Linked DNA regions of Homo sapiens: regions 1, 2, 3, 5 and 6 are each linked to region 4. Evidence: fine-mapped expression QTL. A gene starts in region 4. Each other region holds a variant in brackets. All regions are shown on one strand. Distances are between the middles of the regions.

Evidence for each region.
Region 1: its variant is fine-mapped to the expression of GALNS in monocytes after Pam3CSK4 (Quach 2016, PIP 0.95).
Region 2: its variant is fine-mapped to the expression of GALNS in whole blood (INTERVAL, PIP above 0.99).
Region 3: its variant is fine-mapped to the expression of GALNS in whole blood (TOPMed, PIP above 0.99).
Region 5: its variant is fine-mapped to the expression of GALNS in whole blood (TOPMed, PIP above 0.99).
Region 6: its variant is fine-mapped to the expression of GALNS in whole blood (INTERVAL, PIP above 0.99).

What each region holds. Positions count from the first base shown.
Region 1 is chr16:88,897,780-88,901,779 of GRCh38, reverse strand. CBFA2T3 (CBFA2/RUNX1 partner transcriptional co-repressor 3) reads left to right here. Exons shown (of 12, transcript NM_005187.6): 2 at 124-276; 3 at 3,628-3,702. Among named protein-coding and RNA genes, the nearest start is that of PABPN1L, 33 kb to the right of the region's middle. The variant G/C (reference allele first, on the strand shown) is at 2,219.
Region 2 is chr16:88,878,601-88,882,600 of GRCh38, reverse strand. It overlaps CBFA2T3 (CBFA2/RUNX1 partner transcriptional co-repressor 3), which reads left to right. Exons shown (of 12, transcript NM_005187.6): 9 at 1,112-1,310; 10 at 1,813-1,881; 11 at 3,141-3,331. Among named protein-coding and RNA genes, the nearest start is that of PABPN1L, 14 kb to the right of the region's middle. The variant T/C (reference allele first, on the strand shown) is at 2,054.
Region 3 is chr16:88,819,656-88,823,819 of GRCh38, reverse strand. GALNS (galactosamine (N-acetyl)-6-sulfatase) reads left to right here. Exons shown (of 14, transcript NM_000512.5): 12 at 1,110-1,231. Among named protein-coding and RNA genes, the nearest start is that of APRT, 9.8 kb to the right of the region's middle. The variant C/G (reference allele first, on the strand shown) is at 2,545.
Region 4 is chr16:88,855,382-88,859,381 of GRCh38, reverse strand. It overlaps GALNS (galactosamine (N-acetyl)-6-sulfatase), which reads left to right and starts at 2,435. Exons shown (of 14, transcript NM_000512.5): 1 at 2,435-2,624. The coding sequence starts at 2,505. TRAPPC2L (trafficking protein particle complex subunit 2L) reads right to left here and starts at 2,255. Exons shown (of 5, transcript NM_001318525.2): 1 at 2,199-2,255; 2 at 591-763. The coding sequence starts at 2,231. It overlaps LOC107983950 (a long non-coding RNA gene), which reads left to right and starts at 2,802. Exons shown (of 2, transcript XR_933884.3): 1 at 2,802-2,931; 2 at 3,081-4,000. RefSeq lists a silencer at 2,303-2,702.
Region 5 is chr16:88,813,833-88,817,987 of GRCh38, reverse strand. GALNS (galactosamine (N-acetyl)-6-sulfatase) reads left to right here. Exons shown (of 14, transcript NM_000512.5): 14 at 3,463-4,155. The coding sequence ends at 3,549. Among named protein-coding and RNA genes, the nearest start is that of APRT, 4.0 kb to the right of the region's middle. RefSeq lists enhancers at 1-203, 798-1,297, 1,298-1,799 and a silencer at 1,722-1,831. The variant A/C (reference allele first, on the strand shown) is at 2,139.
Region 6 is chr16:88,833,916-88,838,053 of GRCh38, reverse strand. GALNS (galactosamine (N-acetyl)-6-sulfatase) reads left to right here. Exons shown (of 14, transcript NM_000512.5): 5 at 289-432; 6 at 1,787-1,853; 7 at 2,205-2,329; 8 at 2,702-2,841. Among named protein-coding and RNA genes, the nearest start is that of GALNS, 21 kb to the left of the region's middle. The variant T/C (reference allele first, on the strand shown) is at 1,682.

The sequences.
Region 1 (4,000 bases), 42 kb before region 4:
GGCAGACTGCCCCAGCGCTGGGCGGACACTCAGTGGGGCCTTCGCTGGGAACCGTGGGGCTGCGGGCCCTGGCCTTTGCACTTAGCCTGCTTCACCGACTCTTTCTTTCTCCGTTGGTCGCAGCCCCAGTGGACAGGAAAGCTAAGGCCTCAGCGATGCCGGACTCCCCAGCGGAGGTGAAGACGCAGCCCCGGTCCACACCCCCCAGCATGCCGCCCCCACCGCCTGCCGCATCCCAGGGGGCCACACGCCCCCCCTCCTTCACGCCACACACACGTAAGTAGCCCCCACCTGGCAGCCGAGGGCCAGGTGTTTCAGGGGAGGCCCTTGTGTTGTTTGAAATTCTGAGCTTCCTGCCCGGAGCCAGCGGGCACCTTCTGTGAGCCCTGAGTGTGAGGAGCTCGTGTGGCCCAGAGCCCAGGCTTGGCCGGTTCAAATCCCAGCTTCCCTGCTTCCCACTGGGTAGCTCCGGGTCATGTCCTTGCCCTCCGGGGGGCCTGGGCTTCCTCTTCTGCAATGCAGGTCCTCCCAGGGCTGTGGTGGGGCCAGGTGAGTCCACACAGGCCTTTCACCAGGGCCGGCCATGGGTCAAAGCCGGCCGCTGTGCCTCAGGCTTCCTGCCTCGTCCGGCAGGCCTAGGAATGCCAGGCTCATCCAGAGAGAACGTGGAACTCGGATGGGGTCAGGGGCTTCCGCAGGGTCATACAGCAGGTCACCTGCGTACAGGCCCCGTGGAGGGACCACAGAGGCAGCTCTGGCCTTGGAGGGGCTCAGATCTCAGGAGCTCCACAGCCCGGCTGAGCACGGGGGCCAGGGTGGGGGCCTTGGCACAGGAGGCCGGAAGGGTGGGACCTCAAGAAGCTGTCAGGCCTTGTCTTGCTGGCCCTGGCAAGGGGTTGGCCGTGCTTGGCGCACAGAGCCGCCGATGGTGGGCCCTGGGAGGCTGTGGGGCAGGGAACAGCCAGTTCTCATCACAGTCACCCGCAGAGCCTTGGCTTTGAGGACAGACATTGGTGCTCTTTGGCCCAGTTGCTGGGCCGGCGGGGTGGCAGCGTCCCTGTCCCTCAAGGCTGGGGGCTCAGGAGTGCATCTCAGTGTCTGCAGGGGGGAGACTCCATGTACCACCTCCACATGCAGCGGCCAGAAAGCCCCGTACCTGGGGGACCCTCCCCAGGCTCTGAAACTCAAACGAAGCCCCTCTCTGGGCGGGGAGCCTGAGACTTCCGTCCTGCTTGCCCCGGGTCCCTGACGGGCCAGAAAGAGCTGCTTCCTCAGTCCCTTTACGTCACGACTGTCCTCAGAGCACCGGGTGGCTATAGGCCAGGCCTGGCTCCCTCCCTGGCTCTGCCGCTGAGGCTGGGGGCCTGCTCCGCCGAGGGCTTTGGCCATCATCTCCCCTCCATCTGGAGAGAGCACTGGCTGTGCGGTCAGGCAGCAGATTTGCGGCCCTGTTTGTAGGATGTTGGCTCCGAGTCAGCCTCCCGACTTGGTTGGGGAATGGGGTGGCCCAGCAATGGGGTGCCCCCAGGTGTGCCGCCCAGAGGCAGGTACAGCTGGAAATGTGCCCGGCACTCAGTAGGAGCCAAACAGCCTAACGGCTACTCCCTGCACCCGCGGGGCCGGCCCTGCCTCAGAGAGTCGGGACGCCGCACTCACGATTTTGCAGGTCCTGGGGGACGGCGGGCCCAGCGTGCAGGTCCTGGCTCTGCGGAGCTGGCCACGGTTTCTAGTGAGAGGCTGGCTGGGCTTTTTCTCACATGTCCTTGTCACACGGCGATGTGGCCGGGCTGGGATCACCCTTCCCTCTCTTCGGAAGAGCCCTCCGGTCTGGTACAAACCACGGGCCGTCTCTCTACCAGGCAGCTTGCGACCACACCGAGCCCACATAGGTAGAGGGAGACCGCTGCTGTGTTAAATTTGCAGTATACCCCAGCCCCGGGGGAGGAAACGCTCAGGACGGACCACGGGAGACCCGGCCATGGGCGCAGTGCCTAAAACACCCGCTCCACAGACAACCTCAGGCCCCACTGTCAGGGACAAACACCGTGGGCTGAGCCTGGTTCCCCAGACCCTCAAGGGTGCGTCTCCCCCACCTGCTCTTCCCTGGGGACCAGCAGCCTCTGCTTGGAAGGTGCCGGTCTGATGCTCCTGGCTGGAGGTGGGTTGGGATCAGCAGAGCGTCGGGCTCTGCTTCTGGAGACCTGTGAACGGATGTGAG[G/C]GCAGCCGGCATGCCTGGGGCTGGGGTCCTTCCTGCTCCCTCCACTCCCAGCCCGCCTTGGGGTCATGTTTTTGGGGTGAGGTCCCAGCTGGTTTAAGGAGCGTGAAGGTTATGAAAGAGATAAGCAGGTGCTTTTTCTTTTCTAAGCCGATGCTTCAGTCCCACTGGGCTGTCAGCAGCATCAGTCTGAGGCTCTGGCCACCCCTGAGGTAGCCTCAGATTTATCCCCTAATCCACACAATTCCGTGAAAGCCAGGTGGTTGGCCGCACCCCTGCCCCTGGCTGGTGGGTGGTGGGTGCCCTTCAGGGGCCACAGCTCAGTTGCAGAGCCCTGCCGGGAGGCTCCTCCCCGGGGACTGGCCTCTGAGCCAAGCTGATGGGAGACTGAGTCTGAACGGAGACTTGAGGGCCGAAGTTTCTCTTGCCCAGTGACAGCCCTGGGCGCAAATTCATCTTGGAGTTGAAGCTGCGGTGCTGCTGTGGGGTGGGGGGTGGGGAGGGGGAAGGCATATAAGGAGCAGGGACCCAGACCAAGCTCCTCTAAAGCTGGGAGGACGCTTAAAGGGCTAAGGCTTTATCCTGCCCTTGATTACCCCCATGACAGAGAACTCACTACCCGTCTTTACTAGAGCCTGTCTTCCTGTGGCCTGCGCCACTGACTTCAGCTCGAACAAATTCAATCTTTCTTTCTTTTTTTATATAGTAGAGTTTGGGTCTCCCTACGTCGCCCAGGCTGGTCTTGAACTCCTGGGCTCAAGCAATCCTCCCGCCTCAGCCTCCCAAAGTGCTGGGATTACAGGCGTGAGCCACTGAGCCCAGCCGAATCTTTCTTCCTGTTTGGTGCTTCCTCCTCCAGTGCCGACCCAGGGCTTTGTTTCAGAGACTCCAAGCCGAGTCTCAGGTCGCTTTTAGGACACGCGGCTTCGGCCCAGGTCCCTGAGGATGGTGCTCATGGGGTCACAGGGGCCTTCTGGGAAGAGGACGATGAAAACAAGGGGCCCCGCCCCTGCTCATAGAGAAGCCGCGGTTCTTGTAAACTCCGGAACAGTGCTGCCAGAACGGCCCTTAGGGATCACCCACTCTCAGAGAAGGAAACTGAGGCTCGGAGAGGGGAGTGGCCTGGCCCCAGGTGGTGACAGAGCCCCGTCAGAAAATCACTCTGAGAAGCAGGAAACGGCGGCCCGGGCGTCCCTGAGGGCAGAGTCTCCTGCCCAGGCCCCTCCGAAAATCAAAAATCACTCTGAGAAGCAAGAAAAGGCGGCCCGGGTGCCCCTGAGGGCAGTCTCCTGCCCACGCCCCCACCAAAAATCACTCTGAGAAGTAGGAAAAGGTGGCCGCGGGCGCCCCTGAGGGCAGAGTCTCCTGCCCACGCCCCTCCTGACAGCGTGTTCTTCTTATTTTGCTTACAGATCGAGAGGACGGGCCTGCGACGCTGCCCCACGGCCGTTTTCATGGCTGCTTAAAATGGTCTATGGTCTGTCTCTGTAAGTAAAATAACAAAAACCGCAGGCCTCCCCAGAGGTCTTCACCGCAGCATCCTCAGCTGGCCCAACACTGCTGCCCTGGGGGCGCTCAGCTCTCCTCCCCGGCCTCCGCACCCTCAGCATTGCCTCTGTTGTGTTGGTCTTGCCTCCTTAGGGAGAAGAGGGCGCAGGAGGGCAGAGCCGCCGGGTCGCTGCATCCCACAGACCCTCCGCTCCAAGCTGCGGGGCCTTAGGCAGGAGCAGAGCCTCTCTGAGCTCTCCTTCCCCAGCAGCAAAACATGGCCAATGGGGCTGACTG
Region 2 (4,000 bases), 23 kb before region 4:
CACAGCCATGCACACACAGCCACGCCCACAGCCATGCCCACACACAGCCACACCCATGCACACAGCCATGCCCACACAAGCCACGCCCACACAGCCACAGCCACGCCCGTGCAGTCACACACAGCCACCCCCACGCACACAGCCACGCCCACGCACACAGCCACACCCACACACAGCCATACACACACAGCCACACCCACACACACAGCCATACCCATGCACACAACCCCCCCATGTACACAGCCACACCCACGCACAGCCATGCCCACACACAGCTACACCCACACAGCCATGTCCCCACACAGCCACACCTGTATGCCTATGCATAAACACGGCCATGGCTCTGCCCCATGGGGCCTGGGGCTGCTGGAGACAGCAGGGCTGTGTGGGCGCCCCTGAGCTCAGTGCCCTCCTGTGTGGCCTGCGCCGTCCCTGCGCAGCGGCTGGGTCCTTCACCTGAGCCCCCCTCCTCCCAGCTGTCAGCGCAGCCCAGGCATCTCGAGAGGCCCAGGGAGGAGGATTCCTAAAACCCTCATGGCGGGCCTTGCTTCCCTCCACTTACTTTCTGCTCACTGGCTCTTCCCAGAGTCTATCCTGAGTCTTGCAAGAAGTGTGGGCAAAAGCAGTGCCGAGGCCTCTTTGAGGCAGGACGTGTTCGGGGACGGCCCGGAACTGGGCTCCTCAGAACCCACCCACCCCATCCTGCAGCACGTCCCAGGAGGGGTCGCCAGGCATGGGGCCAGCACCCCTCCCAGCACTGTTGTCAGCCTCGCCCCTCGCCCTCATGCTTTTTGGAAGGGGAGCCCAGGCGGAAAGCCAGGTCCCTGAGGCAGAGCCCCGCTGAGCGGGTTAAAAAGGAGAATCCCAAACTCCTGCGTGCGTCTAGGCACGTGTCCATGTGAGTCTGGTACCCCCAGGCGCTCGGCAGTCCCAGGCTAGGGACCCATCTTTGCAAGCCATGGAGGTGGGCCCTCCCTCACCCCCTTACTCTCACGGGCGGTGGGCTGGTCGGGCACCCATCCTGTCCGGGGCTCTGGCCGAGTGGGCTGGGGGAGTGTCTGGTGCGTCCCGGTCCCTCTGAGGTGCTGAAGGCTGCGCCGCCCGCCCCCAGCTCCTGAACTGCATCATGGACATGGTGGAGAAGACGCGGCGCTCGCTCACGGTGCTGCGCAGGTGCCAGGAGGCCGACCGCGAGGAGCTCAACCACTGGGCGCGGCGCTACAGCGACGCCGAGGACACAAAGAAGGGCCCCGCTCCCGCCGCGGCCCGGCCCCGCAGCAGCTCCGCCGGTCCCGAAGGGCCTCAGCTAGGTGCGTGTGGGGTGTGGGGGGAGGGAGCAGACACGGGGTGCTCTGGTGGGGCGGACACCTGGGAGCTGTCAGGCAGGCAATGCAACGAAACACCAGGCAGAACAGTTTCGCTTGAGAAAGAGGCACCTTTTTCACTTTGTAGGAAAACACGGGCTGGTCTGCCAGGAAGCCTGGAGCTCAGAGCGTCTGGTGGGCCAGAGGCTCGGAGCTGGGAGGCCCTGAGGGTCTCTGCTTCTCCGCCTCAGCGACGAATGCTGACACAGGAGAGGCCCAGGACACACACGGCTCCCAGCCGAGTCCAAGGTCCACAGCTCCAATGCCCCCCGTGCCCGGGCACTGCCCTGGGTGCCTGAGCCAGACCTTGTCCGAGGGCACCTGGGCCTCCCCCCAGGGACGCACACACTCACGCCCTGCACTCAGGGCCCAGCCAGGGTGGGGAGGGCCCCAGCGTGGGAGGGGCAGCCGCGTGGCCCATCCTGTGTGACGCCGGCCCCTGTTTCAGACGTGCCTCGCGAGTTCCTGCCGAGGACCCTCACCGGCTACGTGCCTGAGGACATCTGGAGGAAGGCTGGTGAGTGGGGGTGCAGGGGCCTGGCCAGCAGAGCTGTGGGAGGCCAGGGCCCCAGATGCGCCTCTCACCGGCTCAGCTTTGAAGAGCTTCTGTCTCTCTCTGGGGGCTCAGGCTACAAGGCTTTCTGCATTCCGCTGTGTGGCTCACGGAGAGGTCAGAGTAGGTTCACACT[T/C]AGGGCAGGACAGCTGCTACCTGCGCCTACCAGGAAACGGACCGGTGGCCGCCCAGCAGAATAAAGTGGGTCCTGGACCTGCACACCCAGGAGGGCACGCAGAAGCGCACACACTCGGAGCCTGGGCGCGTCAGGCACGCGGGGCCAGAGTCCGGGCAGAATGGGGTCAGAACAGGGGCAGACGTGGAGCTGAGCGCTGGGCAAGGCTGTGGGGACATTTGCTCATGCCGTGGGAATCAGCCTTGGGGGAGGGGCTGGGGCAGAGCCAGATATGTGGGCAGCAAGAGGGGTTAGGGTTGGGGTTAGGGTTAGGGTTAGGGTTGGGCAGCGGTACCGGGGTCTCCAGCTGGCCTCAGGGTCTCTTTCAGTGGTGGAGTTGAAACATGGCCTCCCCAGCTGCGTGGGCAGTGCTCCCTGGAGGCTGCTCTGAGCCTACCCCATCTTAGCACAGATCAGGATCTGTGTGTGGCTGTGTGTGGGTCGGGGAGCATGGTCTTCAGAGGCCAGCCAGGTTAAAGGATGGCAAGTGCGGTGAGGATAACAGCAGGGTCTGGGGTGACAGCACAGAGCCCTGGACGAGGGGGCTTCCTGGGCTGCGTCTGGGTGGGGCCAGAGGTGAAGGCGGAACGGCAGAGTTATCCAAGTGCTTCAGGTCAGCAGCAGCTCCCCCGGCTCGCGTTAGGAATGCAGATTCCGGGTGCGCCCCTGGCTGACCAGGCCCTGGGGTGGGCCTCGCCCTTGCCCTGCAGGGGTGCAGTGCCTGGGGAGCCGCTGCGGTAGAGTGCAAGCTTTGACTTGTGACACCACGTGACCCAGCTTTGCACACACATGCCTGGGATGCCTGTGTTTATTTGCATGCACTTGTCTGCACAGGCATGAGGGCCATCAACGTGTGTCTGTGTGTGCACAGATGCTACGTGTGTTCAGCTGCCTACAGCCCCATCAACATGTGCCTTTGTGTGCACAGATGGTACGTGTGTTCAGCTGCACACAGCCCCTGTCCCCAGGTTGTGGCCACGCGTAGGAAGTCCAGAGACCCATCTGGGATGGCCCATGTGACCGCCAGCCCTGCCCATGTCCTTTGCAGAAGAGGCCGTGAATGAGGTGAAGCGGCAGGCCATGTCGGAGCTGCAGAAAGCCGTGTCGGACGCGGAGCGCAAAGCGCACGAGCTCATCACCACGGAGCGTGCCAAGATGGAGCGGGCCCTGGCCGAGGCGAAGCGGCAGGCCTCCGAGGACGCCCTGACGGTCATCAACCAGCAGGAGGACTCCAGCGAGGTAGGGCCACCCGGCCACGCTGACACCCATCCCCTGCCTCGGCTCCCGTGCGGTCCCACGCCACCCCCATGAGGATTCTGAGCCTCCACGTGGCATCAGCACAGTTGTCACGGGCATCCTGCAGCAGGCACGCCATCCCCGCCCACACTGTGCTTTATCAGCACAGAGATCCCACATGGTTCAGTGAGGCGTCCTATGGATGTCCCCGTTCTGTAGTTCCAGAAACTGAGGGCTCGAGAGGGTTGGCAGCTTGTCTGAGGTCACGGCCTTGGGAAGCGGTGGGGCCAGGACTCGAGCCCAGGTTGGCTGATGCTGAGATGGAGTTTCACTCTTGTTGCCCAGACTGAAGTGATCTTGTTGCTGTGGCATGACCTCGGCTCATTACAACCTCCGCCTCCCGGGTTCAAGCGGTTCTCCTGCCTCAGCCTCCCAAGTAGCTGGGATTACAGGCGCCCGCCACCACACCTGGCTAATTTTTGTATTTTTAGTAGAGATGGGGTTTTGCCACGTAGGCCAGGCTGGTCTCGAACTCCTGACCTCAGGTGATCCACCCGCCTCGGCATCCCAAAGTGCTGGGATGACAGAAGCGAGCCGCTGTGCCTGGCCTGAAACCCGTGTTCTCTAGCCTGTGAGAACAGGAGGATCCAGGAGAGCTGTGAGGGCCCCAGG
Region 3 (4,164 bases), 36 kb after region 4:
TGCCGCCTGCGAGGGCCGTCCTGGGCATCGGTCCCCGGGCATTGCCGCCTGCGAGGGCCGTCCTGGGCATCGTTCCCCGGGCATTGCCGCCTGCGAGGGCCGTCCTGGGCATCGGTCCCCGGCATTGCCGCCTGCGAGGGCCGTCCTGGGCATCGGTCCCCGGCATTGCCGCCTGCGAGGGCCGTCCTGGGCATCGGTCCCCGGCATTGCCGCCTGCGAGGGCCGTCCTGGGCATCGGTCCCCGGCATTGCCGCCTGCGAGGGCCGTCCTGGGCATCGGTCCCCGGCATTGCCGCCTGCGAGGGCCGTCCTGGGCATCGGTCCCCGGCATTGCCGCCTGCGAGGGCCGTCCTGGGCACAGTCCTCGGACGAGCCCCTTGGCCTGCAGCACCCGCTCTGGGAATGTTAGAGGCATACCTCGCCTTTCCCGAATCAGGAGGCCCAGGGGCAGCAGAAAGAGAATTGTGGTTACTGTAAAATCCTTGCCCTTCTTGAGTGTGTGAATCTGTGTCAGCTCCCTGGGTCTGTTTTTGTTTTCTGTGTTTTCTCTTGCCTTTCACATGTTGGTCCTGCTCCTCCCTGTCTTAGGGTTTCTGTAGGGATTCTGAGCGTTGTGGCTCTCCCTTCTCCCAGGGCAGGGCCTCCCTTCCCGTCCCTTTCCCTCCCCTCCCTTCCCCAGCAGAGAGTAGGCTGTTAAAAGGGGCTTTCCTCCATGAAATTAGTGGCAGTCCAGATCTGAGGCTGGCTAAGGTGTTTTAAATACACTCACCTGCCTCGCAAAGAAGAGGGGTACATGAAAACAGGGTACGTGAGGCATGCCAGCTACGCATCTCGGGCCCAGAGCGGGTGGCTTCACCTCCTCCACAGGATGCTTATGGGCCCGCTAGTCCTTCAGCGTTTAGCCAGCGCCCTGCACCATGCTGAGTACCAGGGACGCTGCTAGGCACAGGCAGACGAGACCCCCCCACGGCCCCCAGTTAGGGGCTCCAGGACACAGGCAGACAAGGCCCCTCACGGCCGCAGTCAGGGGCTCCAGGACACGGGCAGACGAGGCCCCTCACGGCCGCAGGTCAGGGGCTCCAGGACACACCTTCCCTCTTCTCATTGCAGGGCATTGATTTCTGCCCTGGGCAGAACGTTTCAGGGGTCACAACTCACAATCTGGAAGACCACACGAAGCTGCCCCTGATCTTCCACCTGGGACGGGACCCAGGGGAGAGGTTCCCCCTCAGGTGAGTCGGTGCAGGGCCTCCTGGCTGCTGAGGCAGTGCCAGCCGGACTCCCCCAAATGCAGGCTCCACAGGGACAGAGCCCTCTGCACCCTGCCCGCCGCCTCCCCTTGCCTGCATCTGCTGTTGCTATTCATACCCACACGTGCTTGGTGGCCTGCCCTCCTCCCAGGGTGCCTGCTGCTGCCCACCCTGGTGGTCTCCCCACTTCTGCCCCTTCTGGGCCACCATCCACCTGGCCCCCAGTGATGTATCCCCTACTCTGAGCTGCATTTGGGGATGGCTGAGGCCAGAGGGGAGGGGTCCAGGCCCTGGGGCAAGTAGGAGGTACAAGGACACAGGTCAGCTAGCAGGAGGAATGGCAGAAAGCCACCAGCCCCAGCTCCACCCTCTGCTCTCTGGGCCTTGTCCTCACCCCACCGAGGATGCCGGAGTCTGCGCCATCACCTGCCAGTTTTCAGGGAAGCCCTCCCCTTACCCTCAGGAGTCTTGAGGGTCATGGTCGCCAGTACCAGACTCACCTGCTGGCAGCTCCTTAGGGGCGACACAGAGGCCCCAACACTTGGCTGGAGACCCCGCCCTGGCTTCCTTTTTTTTTGTCCGAACCCATCTCCCTGGGCTAGGGCTACCTGGAGGCTTCCCCCCCTCACCCCAGCAGGATGAGCAGGTCCCCAATTCCTGCTCCTGGCCTGGGGGTCCTGGGGCACGTGCATGCCTAGTGGTCTCCAGCATTCCTGCCCTATCGAGTTGGTCCTGGGAAGACCCAGGAGCATCAGGGGAGTGGCGTGCAGAGGCAGAACCAGGCCTGAGCACAGCGGTTGCTCCCTGCCCAGGCTTTCTATGCTCCCCGATGGGCCTGGGTTTGAGTAGGGCCGGTGGGAGGCAGCAGAGAGCAGTACAGGACCGAGGGTGGCAGCACCACCGCCAAGGTGCCCTGAGGCTCCTGCACCCTCTGGACGGGGCAGCCGCCTTCCCACGGGGCTGAGCCTGCGGTGAGGCTCCTGGGCTGCAGCCCCTCAGGGATCCCTTGGGCACTTCCTCGGCAGCACCTCTCCTCCACCGAGCGTCCAGCTCAGAAGCCCAGGATGGTGACTGCGGGAAGGCAGCATGGAGCCTGGAGTGGACAGCAGTGTCCCCAGGCCCAGGTCCACCCACACCTCCCAGCTTGGCCTGAAGGGAAGTAGGGCCTGTGCCTTGTGATTAAGGCACGGGTGGCGCTGGGTCCAAGGCCAAATGCCCTGAGTCCAGAGGGAGGAGACACAGACATGGTGAAGGCCACGGGACGAGACGGGGACTGGACAGAGCGCCACCAGCCT[C/G]GGCTCACCTGGGGCCACTGGAGCTGGAAGAGGCAGGAAGGAGCCCCAGTTCCTCCAGGGGTGCACAGCCCTGAGACCCTTGGTTTCAGCCTCTGGCCTCTGGAAAAGTGAGGGGCATCTGCAGTTTCATTGTTTTAAGCCCCAGTTCATGGTCATATGTTGTGGGGGTGCCGAGATACAGAGACAGACGCCCCCGGGGGACTCGTGATCACCCATGGGGGTGAGACCCGTGAAACCATGGGGGGCCTGGAGCTTGGGGCCTTGTGGAGCTGGAGGGGCTGTCTGGGAGCCCCCTGTGCCCGCAGAAGTCACTGAGGAGCCAACAGCCCCCCCAGCTGGAAGCGCCGTCCCAGGGGGACCACGGGGAGCAGATTGCAGGCCCCAGTTACACAGAACAAGCTGCTGGCCACACCGGTGCCCGCCACACCCCCCACAGGCTGGTCGCTCCAGGGACCACCCGAGGTTAAAGCCTGGATGGCGGTGCCCCCTCGCGTCCACTGGGCGTGATTGGCATCCACAGGGGGGTCCTCAGGGCCACTGCTCCCCGCCTGTTGCGTTTGCTGGAGCCCCTCCAGCCAGGCCAGAGCAGAGACACAGTCCCACCCACCACAGCCACCCAGCCCCGCCCTCACAGCTGGAGAAGGCAGGGTTATTTCAAAGCAAACCCAGGCAGCAGGCAGAGCTTCCCAGAGGGGGTCACAAGGAGGCCCAGCTGTCGGCCATGCCTTTGAGAACCACTGTCCCTGAGGTCACACACCCATGACACAGCCTGATTCACCGTGGGCTGCTTCTCAGACACAGACACACATGTCACTTTGCCAGGAGCCTCTCTAAATTAAAGACGGGTGGCCGGTCGCCATGGTTCATGCCTGTAATCCCAGCACTTTGGGAGGCTGAGGTGAGTGGATCACCTGAGGTCAGGAGTTTGAGACCAGCCTGGCCTACATGGTGAAATCCCATCTCTACCAAAATACAAAAAATTAGCTGGATGTGTTGGTCGGTGCCTGTAATCCCAGCTACTCGAGAAGGTGAGGCGGGAGAATTGCTTGAACCCAGGAGGCGGAGGTTGCAGTGAGCTGAGATCGCACCACTGCACTCCAGCCTGGGTGACAGAGCAAGACTCCGTCTAAAGAAAAAAAGACGACGGGGCCAGGCATGGTCACTCACACCTGTGATCCCAGCACTTTGGGAGGCCGAGGTAGGAGGATCTCTTGAGCCCCAGGAGTTTGAGACCAGCCTGGTCAACACAGCAAGACCTTACTGGTACAGAAAATAAAAAATTAAGGCCGGGCACAGTGGCTCACACCTGTAATCCCAGCACTTTGGGAGGCCGAGGCAGGCAGATCATGAGGTCAGGAGTTCGAGACCAGCCTGACCAACATGGTGAAACCCCGTCTCTACTAAAAATATAAAAATTAGCCAGGCGTGGTGGCGGGCGCCTGTACTCCCAGCTACTCAGGAGGCTGAGGCAGGAGAATCGCTTGAACCAGGGAGGCGGAGGTTGCAGTGAGCTGAGATCATGCCATTGCACTCCAGCCTAGGTGACAGCGCGAGACTCTCTCTCAAAAAATAATAATTAAAATTAGCCAGGCACAGTGATCTATGGTCCCAGCTACTCAA
Region 4 (4,000 bases):
CCCTCTTCATGAATCAATGCCTGGCCCGGAAAGTTAACTGCAAAACCAGAGGCTTCGTGAACAAGGCGGATCCCCTCTCTAGAGGCCACATTATTTTGTAAAATAGTGGCTACTAGCAAATGTCACCATGGACAGGCTACATGATGACTTTTGGGAAGGTCTTTGAATTCCATGGCCTCAAGTGATTTGTCCCAAGGGACTAGACGAGTGTCTAGTGACATAAGAGGCAAGGCCTAATGAAATAAATGAAACTATTATCCCCTGCTCAAAGGTGGTGGCTCCCCCTGAAAAGCACAGAAAGAAATCCTTGCAGGTACAAAGCAGAAGTGTCCCACTTCCTCTGCAAACCAGACAACGGACACGTGCAAACCAAAACATTCTACGGGGAATTCTAGCCTTGCTTTTCCCAAATGGCTCTTCCAATGAAAGAGAAGAGTTACAGGCCTTCATTCACCTCAAGCTACCCTAATTCCCTGGCTGGCTAAAAACTCTCACCTCTTTTTCTTCTAAAAGGTTTCAAGTTATCTGATCCTAAAGTACATCTTGCAACTGTAGGTCCTCCCTGACACACACCCTGCCCTGAAAGATACACCTTGTAGTCCTCCGTGGGGTAGAGCAGGCCCAGGTACAGCTCCCTCTGGTCGACCAGGGCCTTCCCCATTGCGGAGATCTTCTCATCCACCACGTCCAGAGATGTGTGCACCATGTAGTGGAACTTCAGCTCGTTCTCCGTAGGGGTGCTGCGAATGTAGAGGGGGTAATTCTGCAAGAAAGGATGACGGCGACTGAAAGGACAAGACTCCACCCAGCGCACACCAGCTCTGAACTATGCTGCAGAGCCGTGACCTGCAGCCACCCGGGGAACGCATTCCCATGCTCTAAGGCCCACCGCTTCATTCTCTATGCCGCAGTGGGCACTGCCTTCAGGGGATCCCAGCTAACCTAAGGAGATTTATGTGTTGTTTGCAAAGCAGCAGCAGTAGGGTGGGCGGAAAAGAAAAAATGAATCAGAAAAATGGGCCTGAGCACAGCCTGCCGATCAAGCCTGGCACCTGGGCACGCCTCTCACCTTCTCCTGGAGGCCACTCTGCCTCAGCCCACCTCTAACTCTGCATGGCTCACCCAAATACAGCACCCTCAATACTGGCTTTTCTTCACCTTGACAGTGACCCTTTTACTAAACCCTTCAAGACTCAGCTCAAATTCCCTTCATCTCTGCATTTCTGACCATTGGAAGCCCAGAATTAACAGCTTCTTTCTCGGTCTTTCACACACCACCATTTACCCTGTGTGTGTTCAGCACTGGGTCCTGCACAAATACAGTGAACAAGAGTCCTCGCTACCCTCGTGGGGAGTGATACCTAGTCAATAAACCCACAAACAAGCAAATGATCATCTTGGCCAAGAGGGAAGCCCATGAGCAGCTTAGCAGCAGCCACCGCCCAGCAGGGAGCGGTCTCGAGTCTGGTCTCGGGAGACCCTGGCTAGGAAATGAAGGCTCCGTGCAGCAGGAGCGTGTGGGCAGCCACCCAGCTCAGTCTTAGCCTTCAGAAAATGCTTTCCAGTTGAAATGTATGTGGGCCAGTAAAGAGGATGGGAGCTGGGGAGAGGTGTTCCGCGTGCAAAGGCCCACAGGTGAGAGGGCAGAGCATGTCCAGGGAGCTGCAGAATTGTTTGGTTGGAGCGGAGAGTGCCAAGGGTTATGGGGGGAAAGGATCCCAGAGCAGGTTATTCAGACAGCATCCTAAGGCAACGAGAAGCCACTGCAGAGGTCTCAGGCAGAGGCGTGACAGGATCCGATTTGTTTTTAACTCGGCTCCGGGGAGACTGGCAGGAGGGCCGGGGCCGCCGTCCGCGGGGAACCAGCGCTGGACGGGAGAACGGGCAGAACCTGCTGAGGACGGAGGACGGAGGTAGTGCCCGGGACCACCTAGGTTTCTGGTGGGTCCTGGCGGGGAGGAGACCTGCTGCGCCGAGGGGTGCGTTCAGCAGCGGGACGGGCGAGCGCGGAACTGGGGTCTCAGTCAGGGTCTGCCTGGCGGCTCGTCCACCGCGAAGCCCCTGACCGCTGGAGCTCGGCGAAGGCCTCCTCCAGGTCCCATTTCCTAAGGTGCCTTCTAAGCCCAGGGAAGAAGTAGAAAGAAAGCGGAGAGCCGAGGATGGTGCGAGCCCGGACGCCCCACGCCGCGCGTACGCACCTCCTTGGCAATCACCGCGATGCACACCGCCATCTTGGGAGGCTCGGCGCCAGGCACCGCGTCACGTGACCCGCCGCTGGTCACGCGGCCTCCAAAGCCCCGCCCCATCCGCACACAGCTGGCTCAGGCCCCGCCCCACTGGTCACGAGGCAGTCCAGGCCCCGCCTCCCGTCCCTCCGCGGACTCTGGCCCCGCCCCGCGAGTCACGTGGCCGTCCAGGCCCCGCCCCGCAGCCCAGCCGGAAGGGCCGGCGGACGCTCGCTAGGTCGGCTCGCTGGCCGGGGCTCCGCGGCTCCCGTGGTTGCCATGGCGGCGGTTGTCGCGGCGACGAGGTGGTGGCAGCTGTTGCTGGTGCTCAGCGCCGCGGGGATGGGGGCCTCGGGCGCCCCGCAGCCCCCCAACATCCTGCTCCTGCTCATGGACGACGTGAGTGCGGGCGGTGGGACGGGGCAGGGCCGGGGTGGGGCGGGGAGGGGAGGGGCGGATGGAGGGAGGAGCGAGGTGGGGGAAGGGCGGGCGGGGTGGGGGGAGAGGTGAGGGGAGGCCCCTTGGGGAAGGGGGGAGGCCCCGCGCGGGGAGGAGGAGGGGGAGGGGACGGGGGGTATCCCCGTGCGGGGAGGGGGAGGCCCCTCGGGGAGTGGCCGCGGGGTCCAGGCGTGGGGTCTCGGCGGTCACCGATCACCACACGCGCTGCCACTGTGCTGCATGACCGGGACAGCGTCCTCCCTGGCAGGTGGGTGGCCGGCGTGCTACCGGGCCCTGCCTCCCCCGTCTGACCTTTCCCGCCCTCTACTCTTGGGAAAGGTGGGCGCGCAGCGTGGCCTCCCCAAAGGGAGGAAGAGGCTGCTCCTGCCGCCCTGCCTGAGAGCTGCGTCGCCCTAGGAATCACTCCCGCCACCTCGGGCCGCCGGGTCCCCCCGCTGGGCTCCAGTCTTACCTGACGGCTGTCTCTGTCCTCTGGAGAATGCTGAGCGAAGGTCAGGTGTCCCTAAGGTCTGAAGAACTGAAAGGCTGGAATGTCTCCTGGTGGGCAAGTGCGGGGTCAGGGGTCACAGCCAGCCTGGAGGCCTCCTTCCCTAACTCCTTGTGGGAGCCACCTGGAGACTCAGGAATGAGCCTGCCTGGGGCATGGGTCACCGTGCAGGACCCCAGACACACCTGGGTTGAAACCCTACTGTCTCCAAGCTTGGGGGTCACTTCCATTCTTGAACCTCAGCTGCCACACCTGGGGGGTTACACCTGTCCCGCCGTGCTCACGTTGTGTGTGAGGACTGGGACGACACCGAGTACCAGACAGTTTTGGGCCGTCGGTGTCGCTCAGCCCCTGTGTGCTGGCTCCGACCAGCAGAGACCCTGACAGGTGCCTTCAGACCCACCTGTGCTGACCAGTGGGGGCCACGGGCCACACCCAAGGGCTGGGCAGTCGTGGCTGTCGGAATTGGAAGGTGCTGGTAGTGTAAAATACACAGATTTAGAAGACTTGGTGAAAGAAAAATAATGTAAAATATCTCACTTAACAATTTTATTAAATTAATGGTTTTTTAACATAAAGATATACTTGAAAAGATAACAGACACCACCCATAATTTCCCCACCCAGGGGTGACAGCCGACAGTCCTGGGCAGCTGCTTTTCCATCTCATATGTCTTATTTGTGTGCAGTGACTGCTTTCCAGAGCACGCTCTCCAGCGCCCAGGGGTCCGTGTCCTGACAGCAGTAGCCGGGCCTTTCTCTGCACTGAGTGGCATCTCCCTCCTAAAGATACTTTGCTTCAGAATTTCATCCTTTCACTTTTGAAGTTC
Region 5 (4,155 bases), 41 kb after region 4:
GCGGCCGTCTCTTTGCCGGGGCTGCAGCCACCCACCCGGGGCCCAGGATGAACCGTGGCCAGCACAGGGCAGAGGCAGGCGTGCTTCCCCGCCTCCGTCAGTGGTGAGGCCCTCGTGCCTCAGAGCACACGCGGCGGCGTCCGGGATTCGGGAGGCAGGAGCCAAGCGACTCGGGGACCAGAACAACGCTGCACCAGGGCAGCCGCAGGTCCACAGCCGGCCACCCGGGCCTCTGCCTGGCTGAGCTGAGACTGGGGAGCTCCAAGGCCCCTCTCCTGCCCCCCACAAGTCACTGAGGGACAGCAGGGCGCGTGAGAGGGTCCGGGGTCCCCTGGTCCTCGACTCCCACACGGGCAGCTTCTCCTTGCAGGGGCCCTGTGATGACCTCCAAACTCCCGGGCTCTGAAGGCACCGAGGCAGGAACGGCACTGCCCGGTGGGTCCCGGGTGGGCTGGTGGGCACTGTTGAGTGGCGGCGGCCCCAGGGCCCACCTGCGAGGTTCTCATTTGTGCCTCCTTCATGCTGGGCCAGCCCCAGAGACCTTCGCATCAGACCTGATCTCACTCATAGGCACCCACCCAGAGCAGCACCTCCGTGCAGCCTGACAAGACCAGGCCTTGTTCACCTCCAGTAGAGAAACGGCCTCATCACGCCAGCATCGGCCAGAAACACAAGCACAGACGTGCCTCCAAAGTTTCACTGAAGTCTGTGTTCAGGCCACAAAGGATGCGTCGTCGTCTTGTCCAGCCCTGGGGGCCGCAGCAGTCAGGGCCTCTCAGGAGCAGCTTTTCTGTCCCCTGCTTGGGGGTCCCATAGGGTGGCATGTGGACGGCCCAGCCATCCCGCGTGTGCAGTGGCCGCAAAGGCCTGTTTCCCAGCACAGCTGATGTGGGTCCCAGCAGGGCAGGTCTTCACAGCTCCTTCAGATGGGACACGTGCGGCCCTCGCTCTAGTCGGCAAAAACGAGCCACACACAGGTCTGCGGTGTCGCTCCTGGGTGCCCAGAGCCCACCGAGCACAGTGGAGATGGCCGAGCCCAGCCTCGAGGCCCCTGGGCCGTCGCTCACCTGTTTACACGGGCTGGGCGTGGCTGCCCACAGCCCCTGGATCTGCCGCGCAGGATTCGGGAAGAAGGCCCCTCGGCAGCTGCAGACTTCAGCCTGGGCTCCTGCTGTGCGGGCGAAAAGGCCCAGCTGAAGCCTCTTTCCAGGGCCAGACCCGGCTGCAGCGTGGGAGCCGCTGGGTGCCCGCCGTGCCGTGGGAAGGAAGGTGGTGGCTCTGAACAGCCAGGGAGCCACAGCGTGGGCCGGCGGATGTAACAGGAGAGCACCGGCCATCGGGAGCACCTACCAGCAGTGAGGACCATGGAGGGCAGATGGCCTTGTCCCTGCCCAGGGACAGTCCACCCTGCAGGGTTATTTAGGACTGGGCAGGGCAGGGCCACCTCCGTTAGTTGGGGGGCGGGGGGCGGGGGTGCCTGGCAAGTTTCATAGGAAGATATTCAGGGCCCTTCCTTCAAAGGGACCTGGGCAGCTGGCGTCCCCGCCTCTGGACTCAGTGGTGGAGCAGGGAGGTCCCTGTCTCAGGACCCCTGAGTCTCGGGGCCCCAGGAGCCCAGGGCCACCAGCCGTGGAGGAGCCCTGGCCTTCTGCCTTCCACACCCAATCCCACTCCGTGCTGCTGGGTCCTTCTCTACGACCCAGGCTGCAGTGGCTCCACGGGCGCAGGCCACACCTGCCATGGAGACAGTGGGCACAGGGCAGGGGAGGTGGGCGCACACAGCCTGGCTGCCACTGCCATCTCCTGGGCACTGGGGGAACTGCCCCCACCGCCACACCTGTGCTCTCTGCAGGGGGAAAAGTGCCAACTCAGACCTGGCGAGCTGAGCCACTGGGGTCTGAGGGGCCCAGATGCCACCGTGAGCAGAGCCATGGGGGAGATGCACAGACACGCGTGTGAAGCCTGGGGGCCCTCCTTACCCCTTCCCTGCCCTCTGTCCCCGCCAACTCCAGGCCAGCCCCAGGAGAGGGGCTCAGTGGCGTCTCTGGCACAGAGGAGAGGGAGTGTGGCCACCTGGACCCCTGCTTCTGGGACAGCTGAGCGGCCTTTGAGAAATGCAGATCCCCCATCCAGACTCA[A/C]ACACACCCTGCGGCTGCCTCTGCTGCCCCTGGAGTTTGGGAGCAGCTTCCTCACCCAAACCCACTCCTGCTCTGGTGGCCAAGGGGGCAGGGACACTCATGCGGCATCCCTGCTGCCGCCTAGGGCTGGAGACTGTCCTTAGTACCCTGAGCAGCACCCAGAATCCAAAGTCTGTCCCCGGAAAGTGCCCTCAGGGCCATGCGGCGTCTGACGTGGCACAGAAGTGGCCTGGATGGGGACACAGAACCAAACTGCACTCATTTCAGCCAAGAAGGCTCCTCTTAGCGGCATAAGTCTCCCTTTCTGTTGCCAGGAAAAGTGCCCTCCCATCAAGCAAGGCTTCCGCTAAGCAAGGCTGCACTGTGAGGTCCACACACACCCAGGCGATGGAGGGGTGCGGGCTCCGCTCAGCACCGCACTGAACTGAGCCCAGCAGCGCAGTAGGGACTGGCTTCTCCCTGGGAAAGGCTTCTTGAGAGGCTGAAGCTGCAGGAGAGGGTGATGAGTTGAGAAGCTCAGGGTGGGCCCTCCTGGGAGGACCGCCTGCCCTTTCTAACACTGCTGGCCCTCGGAGGCCCTCAGCCACTTGGCAGCTGCATCCCCCATACCCGGGACCTCCCCACCAAGTTCTCATTTCTCCAATGGCAGCCTTCAGAGCTGAGAGGCCGAGTCAAGAGGGTGCCATCTCCCAAGTTCCCATGATTCCTGGGGAGCGTCTGTGTAGCTGCCCACCTGGACCGAGGTGGTCCCCACACTGAGGCCAATTGGTTGGGGTCCGGGGTTGACCTGGGCAGGGGACACATCAAAACTGCTCGAGGCCAAGCGCGGTGGCTCACGCCTATAATCCCAGCACTTTGGGAGGCCAAGGCAGGTGGATCACCTGAGGTCAGAAGTTTGAGACCAGCCTGGCCAACTTGGGGAACCCTTGTCTCTACCAAAAATACAAAAATGGTTGGGCGTGGTGGCTCACACCTGTAATCCCAGCACCTTGGGAGGCCAAGGCAGGTGGATCACGAGGTCAGGAGTTCAAGACCAGCCTGGTCAAGATGGTGAAACTCCGTCTCTACTAAAAATACAAAAATTAGCCAGGCGTGGTGGCGCGTGCCTGTAATCCCAGCAGCTACTCACTCAGGAGGCTGAGGCAGGAGAATCTCTTGAACCCGGAAGGCAGAGGTTGCAGTGAGCCAAGATCGCGCCACTGAACTCCAGCCTGGGTGACAGAGTGAGACTGTCTCAGAACAGCAACAACAAAATGCCCGCTGCTGCTGGGTCCAGAAGAGCTTGAATAACTGCATGTTCTTTTTCTCAATTTTCATTTCCCAGAACTGGGCACCTCCGGGCTGTGAAAAGTTAGGGAAGTGTCTGACACCTCCAGAATCCATTCCCAAGAAGTGCCTCTGGTCCCACTAGCACCTGCGCAGACTCAGGCCAGGCCTAGAATCTCCGGTTGGCCCTGCAAGTGCCTGGAGGAAGGATGGCTCTGGCCTCGGTCCTCCCCCAACCCTGCCCAAGCCAGACAGACAGCACCTGCAGACGCAGGGGGACTGCACAATTCCACCTGCCCAGGACCTGACCCTGGCGTGTGCTTGGCCCTCCTCCTCGCCCACGGCGCCTCAGATTTCAGGACCCTCCTCCTCGCCCACGGCGCCTCAGACCTCAGGACCCTGCCGTCTCACGCCTTTGTGAACCCCAAATATCTGAGACCAGTCTCAGTTTATTTTGCCAAGGTTAAGGATGCACCTGTGACAGCCTCAGGAGGTCCTGACAACAGGTGCCTGAGGTGGCTGGGGATACAGTTTGCCTTTATACATCTTAGGGAGACACAAGATCAGTATGTGTATGGCGTACATTGGTTCAGTCAGCCTTCCACTGAATACACGATTGAGTCTGGCCCAGTGAATCCGCATTTTTATGTAAACAGTAAGGGAACGGGGCAATCATATAAGCGTTTGTCTCAGGGGAGCCCCAGAGGGATGACTTCCAGTTCCGTCTGTCCTTTGTCCACAAGGAATTTCC
Region 6 (4,138 bases), 21 kb after region 4:
GGCTCCTCACGATGCACCACCCTTCACCGTGCAGGGAACCCCGGCCGCCGCCATGCCTGCCGCCCTCGGTTGTGCCCAGACGCTCTGCAGGGTAGGCGGGCAGTGCCAGCACCCTCCTCGGGTGAGGCCTTGGTCTTTTGTCCCTGCCGTGCCCAGGCATAGCCCATACTCAGTGCTGGAGGGTGCTCGTCTTACCAAGAATTTTGTGAAGGTGGTATCTGTTGCTGCTCAGAACTTCCGAGTGTCCCCACGTGGGGTCCCTGAAGTGTCCTGGGTTCCTGTTTCCAGGCATCTGGGTCACAGGCCCCAGTTCCACCCCCTGAAGCACGGATTTGATGAGTGGTTTGGATCCCCCAACTGCCACTTTGGACCTTATGACAACAAGGCCAGGCCCAACATCCCTGTGTACAGGGACTGGGAGATGGTTGGCAGGTAATGGAGCCCCACCCCTTCCCCTCCCACGTCCTGAACTGCTGTGCCCGGCGTGCCTGCCCCCCGCCTCTAGCACTGGTGGGCTCAAGTCGCCACTCATGAGGGCTGGTCTGTCCCTGGGTCCCCGGGCACCGAGGGCTTTGGTTTGGTGGCTTCTGTCCCACCAAGTTTTGCCCCAGAGCCTATGAGACTCCTGCCTGGGGTTTCCCACCTTTTCAGGGTCGTAGATCCCTGTAGCTGTCCTGAGAGAGGAAGGCCCCCAGCAGAGCGAGCCCACACGGTCTGCCCTAGCTGTCAGGGTACTGCCCATGTGGTCTACGGGTGGGGAGGCCGGCTGTGCTCCAGACATCCAGGGACATGGGCAGGACAGGAGGTGGGATGAAACCCCCACTGGGAGCCACACCAGGAGCAAAAGCCGCTGTCCAGACAGAGCCGTCCTGGTGCCCGGGCGTGGGGGCAGCACCTCTTGACACGGCAGTGCCGGGTCCGGGACCCTCATCTTTTGTGAATTTTATTTTGCTTAACTTGACTCTTCTTGGCGGAAGTGCTCATTCATTACATGACGGTGACCAGAAGCAGCACCAGCTTGCTGCCTCTTTCTAGATAGAGCCCCGTGGAGGTGTGGGAGTCGCACCACGCAGCCCCCATTTGAAGTGTGCAGTTCTGTGGTTGGCATTAGTCACAGGCTGGGACAACCAGCACTGTAGCTGCTTCAGAACGAGCCCCATGGCCTGAGCGGCGGCTCCCCAGCCCCAGCCGAGTGACCACAGCCGCCTCACTGCCTTCACCTTGGTGTCGTGCCCTCAGCCCCATTCCCCCATCTTCCCATGTGGCAGGTTATTGCAGCACCGGCCTCAGCCAGGTCATCAGATGCAAGACCGTGCCCTGGGGGAGCGAGGGATGCGTCCAGCTTGGTTGTTCCCTGAGTGGACATTTCATTTCCAGGCTTCCTTTTTTTTTTTTTTCTTGAGACAGGATCTTGCTCTGTCACCCAGGGTGGATTGCAGTGGCGCGATCTCGGCTCACTGCAACCTCCGCCTCCTGGGTTCAAGCAATTCTCCTGCCTCAGCCTCTCAAGTAGCTGGGATTACAGGCGTGCGCCACCACGCCCAGCTAATTTTTGTATTTTTAGTAGAGACAGAGTTTCACCATGTTGCCCAGGCTGGTCTCAAATTCCTGACCTCATGATCCACCTTCCTCAGCCTCCCAAAATGCTGGGATTACAGGCATGAGCCATGACGCCCAGCCC[T/C]AGCCTTCTTTTAAATGAAGCCCATGGCTTTGCTGGTGAAATCAGGGAGAACGGGACTTTCTTGGCCTAAATTCTGAAGTCTGTCTGGATCTGTGTTCTTTTCAGATATTATGAAGAATTTCCTATTAATCTGAAGACGGGGGAAGCCAACCTCACCCAGATCTACCTGCAGGTGATGGGGACCGCACCATCCTCGCCCTGTGGGACGCATGGGGACGGGGACCGCACCAACCTCATCCTGTGGGAGGCGTGGGGACAGGAATGCATCAACCTCACCCCGTGGGAGGCATGGGTTCAGGGACCTCATCACCCTCGCCCCGTGGGACGCGTGGGGACGGGGACCGCACCATCCTCGCCCCGTGGGACGCGTGGGGACGGGGACCGCACCAACCTTGCCCCGTGGGACGCGTGGGGACGGGGACCGCACCAACCTCGCCCCGTGGGACGTGTGGGGACGGGGACCGTGGGAGGCATGAGGAGGTCGGCCTGAGGCTGGAGGACGACGGTGTGGCTCTCTCCATAGGAAGCCCTGGACTTCATTAAGAGACAGGCACGGCACCACCCCTTTTTCCTCTACTGGGCTGTCGACGCCACGCACGCACCCGTCTATGCCTCCAAACCCTTCTTGGGCACCAGTCAGCGAGGGCGGTGAGTCCTGGCTCCATGGAGCATAGACCTCGCTGGAGGCCCCAGCTGTGCTTGACTCCAGAGATGGGACACTCAGTACCGTGGCATTTAGGCCAATTATGGAAAGGCCAGAGCAACCCCACCCCTTTGAAGCCGTCCACTGGCCTGGGATCAGCAGAGGAGGGCTGTGGTGGGGGTGCTGGCTCTGTCCTTCATAAGCCACATGAACTTGAACTGAGGCCATTCCTCTTCTGGGAAGAGGCCGGCCAGTTTCACTGTGGTCTGTGAAGTTATGATTTAATGAACTCCGTGAATCACAGTATGCCGTTGGCTGCCTGATCCATTTGTCACCATCCTCCAGGTATGGAGATGCCTTTTGTCACCATCCTGCAGGTATGGAGACGCCGTCCGGGAGATTGATGACAGCATTGGGAAGATACTGGAGCTCCTCCAAGACCTGCACGTCGCGGACAACACCTTCGTCTTCTTCACGTCGGACAACGGCGCTGCCCTCATTTCCGCCCCCGAACAAGGTGAGTGCTCGCTGTCACTTCTCACGGTTTCCCCACAGCCAGCGTGTCAGCGAAGAGTGCCTGGACCGGCTGTGCCCACGGGGTCTGTGGTGGGCAGAGCATGAAGGGTCCCTCTGGGTCCAGCGGGAGGAGCAGATGTCACCGAGCCTCGAGCAAGGCCCTTCTGGCCCAGGACTAACCTGGAAGCAGGAGTGACCTTGAACTTGGGGGTGGGGAGGAGGTGACACAGGGGAGAGGGTTTGTCTTGGAAGAGGCTGACGCCTCCCGAAGGGTGACCCCGGAGGCCGGAGGCTTTGGAGGCCGCATGGAAACAGCAGGGCCGGTGGAGCAGGGTGTCCCTGCTGAGGTGGGGGCCGGCACCCCAGACCCCGAGCAGCCCTGTGAGTGTGGCCTGGACCTGGTCACCCAGGGGCCGGGCTGCCTCCATGAAGATGGACTCCTGCCCCCACCACAGCCCTGTCAAGTGGTTCCTGGGATGGAGCTTCAGCCTTTCCCCCGCTCGGCACTGATGAATGCCTGACCCATCCCCAGCGCCAACAAACCTGAACCCGCCTCTTCCCAGACCACGCGGGGGGGGGCCCTGCAGCCTCTTCCCAGACCACACGGGGGGGGCCCTACAGCCTCTTCCCAGACCACGCTGAGGGGGGCCCTGCAGCCTCTTCCCAGACCACGCGGTGGGGAGAGCCCTACAGCCTCTTCCCAGACCACGCTGAGGGGGGCCCTGCAGCCTCTTCCCAGACCACACGGGGGGGGCCCTACAGCCTCTTCCCAGACCACGCTGAGGGGGGCCCTGCAGCCTCTTCCCAGACCACGCGGGGGGGCCCTGCAGCCTCTTCCCAGACCACGCGGGGGGGGGCCCTGCAGCCTCTTCCCAGACCACGTGGTGGGGAGAGCCCTACAGCCTCGTCCCAGACCATGTCGGGGGGCGCCTACAGCCCAGTGTGCTGCGGGGATTGGGGGCTTCAGAGTTTCAAGTGATAGAAACCAGCACAGCTGAAAGCCAAAACAGAAGCATAGGCTCCCTCGCGCCACGTCCCACCAGATAGCTCCCCTGGGTGAGCCTGGCTCTCGTGCAGGCCCTCCGGACAGCTCCATCTCCCGCCCACTGGAGTCAGACCCACGAGTCGAGGCCCCCAACAGACCCATGTGTGGAGGGCTACAGGCAGCTCCCAGGAGGCAGGGTGCTGGGTGGGGGGAGGGTGGTGTTGGCCGTCATTCCCCATGGGGAGCCCGGGGGGGCCCACCTCGACGCCAGCACCCACAACCACCAGCCAGCAGGGGCAAGGGTCCCAGCGAC